Regions from separate parts of the Homo sapiens genome. Here region 1 is linked to region 2. The links come from fine-mapping of genetic effects on gene expression. Tissue or cell type: whole blood. Region 2 holds a variant in brackets; the other region holds the start of a gene. All regions are shown on one strand. Distances are between the middles of the regions.

Region 1 (4,115 bases), 83 kb after region 2:
GGGGCTGACACCACGGTGATGGCAGGATTATGAAAAATGCATGCCCAGAGCCTCTGCAGCCAAGAAAAACCCCCACACGCATTCTGCATGACTCGGTTTTAAGACCTCTCACACGTCCATTTTGTGAACAAATGGAGCTCTCAGAGCAGCAGAGGCGACTAACCACACTTCCAGGCCTTGCCCAGCTGTCCCCAGAGCTCTACCAGGCACCACCTCTGGGTCACAGGCCCTGGGTCAGAAGAAGTCTCTGCAGGTATCCCTGCTGGGGCAGCCACGGCTTGCTGGACACAGGAAAGTACTAATTTATGGGCAGCCCAGAGCCCCCAAAACACTCTGACTGCACACACCGGGCCTTGAAGCCTCCACACTGTTTTGCAAAGACACAACAGTCCAGACTCCCTGGGTCATTAAAGTAGGTCATCGGGACTGGAGAAGCAGCAGCCTAAGAGACACAGCCTCCGAGGCCCACTCTCCAGGACCCTCTCTACGCCCACAGCGTGCACACTTACACCAAACGCACAACAGAGGCCTGCCCTCGCCACCAGCTGACTCACAAACCGCAACCTGCGCACGGACACAGCCAGGCCCCACATGCCGTCCGCACACCTGGTATGCATCCTGCCAGCCATCCACACAGAGGGTGACACACATGGAGCCCCGCCGCCCCCAGGGCTTCTTAAGGCCAGGCGCAGGAGCAAGGACAGGCCCAAGGACGCACTCGCGGACAGACCCTGCGGAAAGCCCCCTGCGGGCTGGGGCACCCTCACCTGCAGCTCACACCAGGCCACCTCCACCCAGGTCTCCGTGTCCAGCCCCTTGTAGACCGTCTTGAAGGAACCGCGGCCCAGCTCGATGTCGAACTTGAGGAAGCGGCCGTCCAGAGAGGTGGCCACGGCCTTGAGGTCGTCCTCGTCGTCCTCCTCCTCTTCGGGCTCGTCCCGGCGAGTGCGCCCGGGCTCAGGCTTCGCCTCGGCCGCCCCCTCATCCTCCTTCCTCACGGTCGCCGCCGCCTCCTCCCTGGGGCCGCCGTCGGGGGCAGGCGCGGTTTCGACAGCGGCTGCGATGGGGTCCGGGCCGGGCTCCTGCGTGCCCACGGGCTCGGGGCCGGCGTCCGCGGGGGCTCCGGGGGCTCCCGGCTGCGCTACCAGCGCTGCGGGCGCGGGGGCGGCGGGGCGTCCGCGGGCGCGCTCCGCGATGAGGCGGCGCGTCTTGCAGAGCAGAAGCACCCGGCGCTGCAGGGGCTGCGGGGGCTGCGGGCCCGGCGCCTCGGCTGCCTCCAAGCCCGGCGGCTCCTCCTGGTCCGACTCTACCACGCTGCGCCGCAGAAAGCGCTGGGGCCCCGGCCGCGCCGCCTTCGCCCGAGGCTCCGCCATGCCCGCGGGCCCCGCGCCGCGCCCGGGCTCCATCAGCGTGCCGGGGACGTCTCGGCGGCCGCCATCGCCGTCCATCTCTGTGGGCCAAGGACACACAGGCCCGCGTGAGCGCCGGCCCTGCCGCACCTGCCCAGGCCGCCGGATGAGACAACGCCGCCCTAAGCCCGCAACCTGCCCAGCCCCGGCCGCGGAGAGAGCCTGCGGGGGCCGTCTCTGGGGGCCCTGGGAAAGGGGGGCTGCAGACGGGACCAGAGGCTTGGGTTGGGGAGGAGGGGTCCGTGCCCTGCTCAGCCCCAGGCTGCGGAGAGGGACGGGCCTGTGGTGTCCCTGGAACCCTGGGAGAGAGGACCTGCTAGGGTGTCCCTGAGGGCCCCGGAGGCCGGCAGAGGGATCTCGCGCCCTGCCCAGCCCTGGCCCAGGAGGGTTCTGCTAGGCTGTCCCGGAGGCAGCTGTAAAGGGGATAGGGAAGCCCGGGGGTGGGAGGAAGGCAGTGGCCCGGCGGCGGCTCCACAAAGGACGCGGGCCCGGGGCGCGGGAGGGGCGCGCGGGGAGGGGGCTGCAGCGCCGCGGCGCGCACACAAAGGCGGCGAGCGGCGTTGAGGGGAGGCTCGGCACTCACAGGGCGAGCGGACGCCGTCCATGCCCGCGGCCCGGCGGCCAGGGCGTGCGAGGCGGGAGAGATCACGCTTCGAGGACGGGGTCCGAGTTCCGGGCGAGGTCCGCGCTGGGGTGGGGGCCGTGGCGCCGCTCCAGCTCCTGCGCGCTGCTCTCTCGGGCCGGGCCACTGCGGGGCCGCGCTCCCGCGTGCTCCTGCCGGCTTCGCGCGGCTCCGCTCCCGCACCGGCTCCGACCCGGCGCGCGGGGAGGGCGGGGCTCCGTTCGCCCCGCCCCGGACCGGCGCAGGGGGCTGGGCCTGGCACGCCCACCTGGCTGCGGACGGGCTGGCTGACTGGCAGGCGCGCGCGGCCACCTGCGGGCCGGCTACCTGGGCTCCCACCCGCGGTTCTTTGCTCGAGGTAGCGCTCCTGTCCTCTGAAGTTCTTTGGAACGCCCCGCAGGGCTGTCAGCTGCGGAGGACCCCGTTTCTTCCTGAGAGGAGGCAGCAGGCTCAACGCCTCAGCACGCCGCAGCCCGGCGCGCTAGACCTCAAGGCCCTGTGCCAGGACAGAATGGGCAGGCTAGGAAGAAAAGGACCAGGGGTACCGCCGCCCTCGGGAGCCCAGCCTGGGGCTAAGCCTGGTGGGGCTCAGCGTGTCCTTTCCTGCCCTCACTTCACCACCAGGAACCATGAGGACCTCATCATCACCCAGGGAGGCACTGGTGATCATTATGCCCATTTCACAGTCTAGAGCAAACTGAGGCGCCAAAGGCAGAAGTTATATGCTCTAAATCCCAGAACTTTCAAGACCGAAGCTGAGCTGGAATGCCTTGGATGGGATATGGAGAGGCTTCCAGAAGCCCCTTGACCCAAAGTGTTCTTCCTTCCCACCTCTGCCAGATGCCACCTCTCCCGAGAAGTCTTCCATGATCTCTAGCTCCTTCCTCCTCTAGACCCCCACGGACAAGCCCTCTCTTGGGCGTCTCTGGCCCTAATGCAGCAGGTGACCTGTGTCAGTAACCATACTGCTAAGTTCTGAGCCCTGCTCCAGGCAATGCCCTGAGCTAACACTTCACCCTTACCCCAGCCTCCATGATCCTAGGTGAGGAAACTGAGGCACAAGGGAGATACCAGAGTATTCTCATCTCAGTCCCCATCCCACTGGGCTGGCACCCCCATCAGATACACACACACTTCCAGAGATGAAAAGATGCTTGTGGGCCTGTAGGCCTTGGAGCCCCTGGCACAAAATAACTCATGTGGCATAAAAGCCAGCAGAGGCGATATCTCACCTTCACAATGTAGAGGGAAGAATATGCCAGGCCAACTGTTACCCAGAGAAGCAGGACTTCCTGGAGCCCCGCTGGGCACTGGCACTGGCTGAAACTAATTTGTGAGGGGCAACAGTGAACATCCCTTCCCAGCTCTGGGTTCAGCAATGCCACCCTGTAGCCTGAAGTCAGCAATGCTGGGAGTATTTACACTGCGGAAATTGGCAAACACCTCAAATCAGGACTTTTCTCCCCAGAGAGCCAGTGGTTAAATAGTGTGCTAGGTGTAGGGCTATGCATTTGGCACTTGCCTGTTATTTATATAATCTAATCTACCGTGTGAGACAGGCATTCATTCCGGGGCTCAAGTCCGCTGGCATGAGCCCAGAGCTCACACGAGGAGGAGGCCAAACAGCAGACGCCAGCTCTGCAGGACAGAGAGGCCTGAGGGACAGGGATCTAAGTTGCATCTCCTGGGGCAGGAGTCTTCCAGGTAGAGGTCAGGGGTGGAAAAGGATCTTTTCTGTCTTCCCTTTGGAGGCTAAAGACCCCCCAACCTTGCCCCTAACCAGCTGAGTGAACTTGGGCAAGTCCTGGTCCTTCCTGAGCCTCAGTATCTGGCCCTGCAGAGTGGGCTGATCATCCTGACTTGCCCACCTTAAAAGGCTGCCAATTCCTTGTAGATTCAGTCAATCTAGGAAGGGCACCAAGTCCACAGACCTGTTCATGATGGGTGTGTTCAAGCCTATCCAAGGGAAAACCAGGATGGGACAGAGCTAAGCGTGTTCTGAGACCAGCACACACCTATCTGGCCTCCTCCTGCTCCCAACAGGCCACACTGGCAGTGTGTGGGCAAAATACCTGCCAGCATCG
Region 2 (4,115 bases):
ACCTGTCCCCCATGGGAACGAATCTCCAAAAGATAATGGGAGTCACTGGAAGCACATGACATAAAATTAAAAATGATTTACAGATATTTTTCATGAATGTGCCATAAGGTTATGTCAAGTTATAGAATCAGTAACTTTCCCCTGCCAACTGGTAAGGAATTAAACCTTAAATTTGTTCAAGTGACTATTTTCAGCCTCCCAAAGGACCAACAAGATTTAACTGACAGCCCAAAGCACGGGCTTGTTGGCATCTGTACAGGCAGGTGCAGGTGCAGATCAATGCACAGTGATAAATGTCTGTGTGAACACTTTAAAATCAGAGTCTCAGCACCAACAGGGACTTTCCCACCCCACCCCCCAAAGCAAGCAGAACCAGCAGAGGCGTGTCTGCTGCAGGTGTGCGGCACAGAGGAAAGGGACAGGAGCAAGGAGTTGCCAGGTTAACACTGTGAAGGAAGGACAGCGGAGCTCTTCAACACACACCTATATGGCCATGCGAGCCACCTACTTGGTGGGGTAACAGGGCAGACTCAAACCTGGAGGCTGCTTTGACTGAGCTGATTCAGCAGAAAACAAGGATAGGAACACAGCCCCACAGGCTGCTCTGCGCCATGGGAGACAGGGCAGGGTGAGCCCCCTGCATGGACCTGGGCACGGGGCACATACCGGCTGGGTCATGCACAGAAGGAGGCCTGTACATGAAACAGGGAGGGGCTTGTGTGGGCGCCTGCTGCTCATACCTTGGCTGGCTTCTGGCGGCAGGGAGCTTAGAGGAAGTGGGGGCGAAGATTCAGGGGCCTCGGGGGCGGGGTGCTCAGCCACCGGACAGATGATGAACCACCTCTTCCCGGTGTGCAGGACTGAAGGGCAGAACAGAAACAGCACGCTGAGTGAGTGAGCGCCTTTCCAGGCCAGTGTGACCCCCATCACCTGCACCAGACTTGCCACAGTGGGTCTGTGAACTCCTTTACACCTATGGGATTTTCTCCAGGAAGGGTGTGGGCAGAGAACACTGTTCCCAGTCATTAATCCCCAACGCTTCCCTCCACGAAGCAGGTGGTTCCCCAGGCTCCTTGGTAAAGAGGCCCTGGTGATGGGCTTCTGCCTGCTCTTCCCTCACACCAGAGGGCAAGGGGTGCACAGCAGAACCTGGGGTGCCTCACTGGCAGCCCCCGAAGCTCCCGAGAGGACCCCTCGCGTAGGCTTGGTTCCTGGGATGCCCAAGGCACCATCCATGAAGGCCGTGATGCCGGTTGCAGGTGACAGCTCCTCGGACAGGGCAGCTGTCCCCAGACTGGGGCCCCTGGTCACCACATGCTTCCATAATCCCCCCAAGCAATGGCCAAACCCCTGGTAATATGCTGAGTGGGGACTTTCATCAAACGCCTGCTTAAAAGCAGGGAGGGAAGTTGCAGACTCACCGTTCTGCTGATACACGGGGGCGTTGGCTTGGGATTGTCGGCTCTCCTGAATGAGGTGGAGGGTCAGAAATGAGCCCACTGAGCTGCAGCGCCCACCTGCCCAGCCACTGCACTCTCACCACCTCCCACCCCGGATTTCACAACCTCACCTCCCCGGTGCCCAGGCCGCAGGTGCTGAGGTGTGGCGGGCTGGTCCCTGGGTCGGAGCCACGGTCGGCGTCTGTGTCCTCGCTGAGCATGTCCTCTGCCTTGTCCATGACATCCTTCATCTGCTCGATGAACGTTTCCCGCTCGGCCTGCAGGATAAAGTCATGCTCCACCTGCAAAGGGACATACTGCCAGTGAGGACCAGCTGCAAGGCCAAGACCACCCTAGGTCTTCATCTGGATTGACGGATGTCTACCCTGTACCAGGCCCCAAGGGAAGAATGGTGAAAGGGTGCAGTCCCCAAGACAGGGGCTGGACAGCTCAGCAAGTGACATGGATGGCCCCAGGATGGGAGGAGAGCAGCCTCATCTTGAGAAGCAACTCCCTCCTCCAAGCATGGGACCTGGGCCAGCAATGCCCTGCCCCAGCTGGAGCTGGTTACAGACCCTGAGGCCGGTCCAGCCATCTTCAGAACAGGTAAGTGCATAGGATGCAGGGGGCCGAGGACGGGGACTGGGAAGAGGGGAGGGGGTCCATCTGGGCACAGGTGCCCAGGCAGTC[A/G]TGACAGACAAGAAGGATGGATTTGAAGGCAAAGGTTCCAGCCAGCAGGAGGTTGTGGGGGACAGAAAGCAACAGGGGGACGGGAAGGTTATAGCAGGATGGCCATATGTCACCTGTCGGTCTGCGCACCCCCTGCTCTCCCAGCCTCAGGCTTTGACCTTCAACTATGGCCCGGGCACACAGGCAAGCGTGGCCTGATGTCCAACGAGCAGCTCCTGTCATGGCTGAGGGGAGGTCCCACACCACAGCCTGAATGCCACGAAGCCTCCAGACCAGGGGCTCAGGAGATGTCCACAGTCTCCAACTTTCACAGTGGGCATGTGGCCCTGGGCTCACACCGGCTCTGGCTAAATCCTCGGCCATTCAGGCAGAGAAAATGCTGTGCATCTCATAAAACCATAACCAATGGAAGAGGTCAGCCTGTGCCACCACCCAGTGGGGTCCAGACCCTGCCCCTTTCCTGCCATGGCACCTCCTCCCAGGCAGACACCTCTGCAGTCACCGAGATGCTCTAGGCCCTGCCTGGGGCATCTGTGGTCTCAGATCCCTTCTAGGATGGGCACATCTGCCCTACTATAAACAGCTGGCTGAAAAGCAGAGCTCCTCTGCGCTCCACACTCCCCTGGCACCCCAGACCCCAACCCCAGGAGCACCACCTGCATACACCTCCAGACAAAGTGCTGGCTTGTGCTGTGTTCCGTGATTCACCACTTAATTTAGTGTAACATGTGACTGCAATGTTGTCTAAGAGGAGTACACTGTGGCCAAAGTTGGAACATCCAGCCAGCTGTGACTGGAGTGCCACATACGAGAATTTAAGCAACGTTCCAATTTTGTGAAATTTTCACTAAACAAAACTGAACTAGAACCCCTTTGCAACTAGAAAATGTTTTCCTATTATGTTTCTTTTCAAGTATGTTGAGAATAAAATTAACTTGAAAACAAAATAAAAATCTAAAAATACAAGGTCCAGGTAAAACCTGGCATTAGAATCCACGCCAATTAAATGAAACTTCTGCAGTTCCACCTTTACTAAGGGGCTGGCAAGGTCGTCATGGTCAGAATGATGAACCCAAGGCCTGCCGACCTCTAACCACTGATGGGACATTCAGGGACAGCTGGTACCTCACACTCACAGAAAGACAGTCCACAGGGCGGGCAGAAGCTTGTCTAAACAGCGCCTGTCCCACAGGCCACACACCCACCCTTCAACTCGAACCTCTGGAGCCAGTCTGTCCCTGGGATAGGAATGGGCTGTGAGGAGGAGGGCTGCTGGGCTGTTTTTATGGACCAAATTTGTATATCTGTAGCATGCTTACTTCACACAGGTATGTTAGGTGACTTGGTTTACTAAGATGGCAGAAAAAGCAATAAAATGAGAGGAGTATCCGAGTGCTGAGTGAAAAAAACAAGGCTGAGAAGATGCTATTTTTACAAAGCACACAGCTAAAGATAGCCCCATTGCTTACTGTGCAGGACTTACATGTGTGCAGCTCACAAAGACTCACACACAGAGACACACAAGAAGACTGAAAACCAGGGGGCCAGTGGACACGACACAGGCTGATGTGGCTGATGTCGCATGTGTGGCTTCCTGCTCGGGCAGGCAAGCACTGGAAGCGTCAGCCGCACATGCAGCATCAGCTGGTGGCTGAGTGATAACTTCACGGGTGTTCACTTTATTATTATGCTTTATCATGTTTGAAACACATGTGTATAAAGTAATACAAGACACAGGTTTAAAACACAGTAAGATGAGAGAAGAAATGTTCTCCAGTTTCAGTGGCCCAGTGAGGACCTGGTGTTTGTGCTGCGCTGACGAACCAGCTGCTTGCTGCTGACAAAGACTCCTCCCTGACCAAAGCGCAGCTCACGCCTCTGACCCTCCAACTAGGCTTGACTAGGCCCCATCATGTCTTCAGCCTAAGCCAGTTGTAGAAAGAATTCCCAGCCTTTGTATCTGACCATATTCCTCATCTCCCACCT

Evidence for each region. PIP is the estimated chance that this variant, and not a neighbour inherited with it, causes the effect.
Region 1: WNK2 starts here. The variant in region 2 is fine-mapped to the expression of WNK2 in whole blood (TOPMed, PIP 0.96).

The regions. Positions count from the first base shown.
Region 1 is chr9:93,182,263-93,186,377 of GRCh38, reverse strand. WNK2 (WNK lysine deficient protein kinase 2) reads right to left here and starts at 2,239. Exons shown (of 30, transcript NM_006648.4): 1 at 1,993-2,239; 2 at 768-1,450. The coding sequence starts at 1,448. RefSeq lists an enhancer at 1-201.
Region 2 is chr9:93,265,372-93,269,486 of GRCh38, reverse strand. WNK2 (WNK lysine deficient protein kinase 2) reads right to left here. Exons shown (of 30, transcript NM_006648.4): 17 at 1,571-1,741; 18 at 1,422-1,467; 19 at 741-860. It overlaps LOC124902214 (a long non-coding RNA gene), which reads left to right and starts at 826. Exons shown (of 2, transcript XR_007061668.1): 1 at 826-2,045; 2 at 3,907-4,115. The variant A/G (reference allele first, on the strand shown) is at 2,130.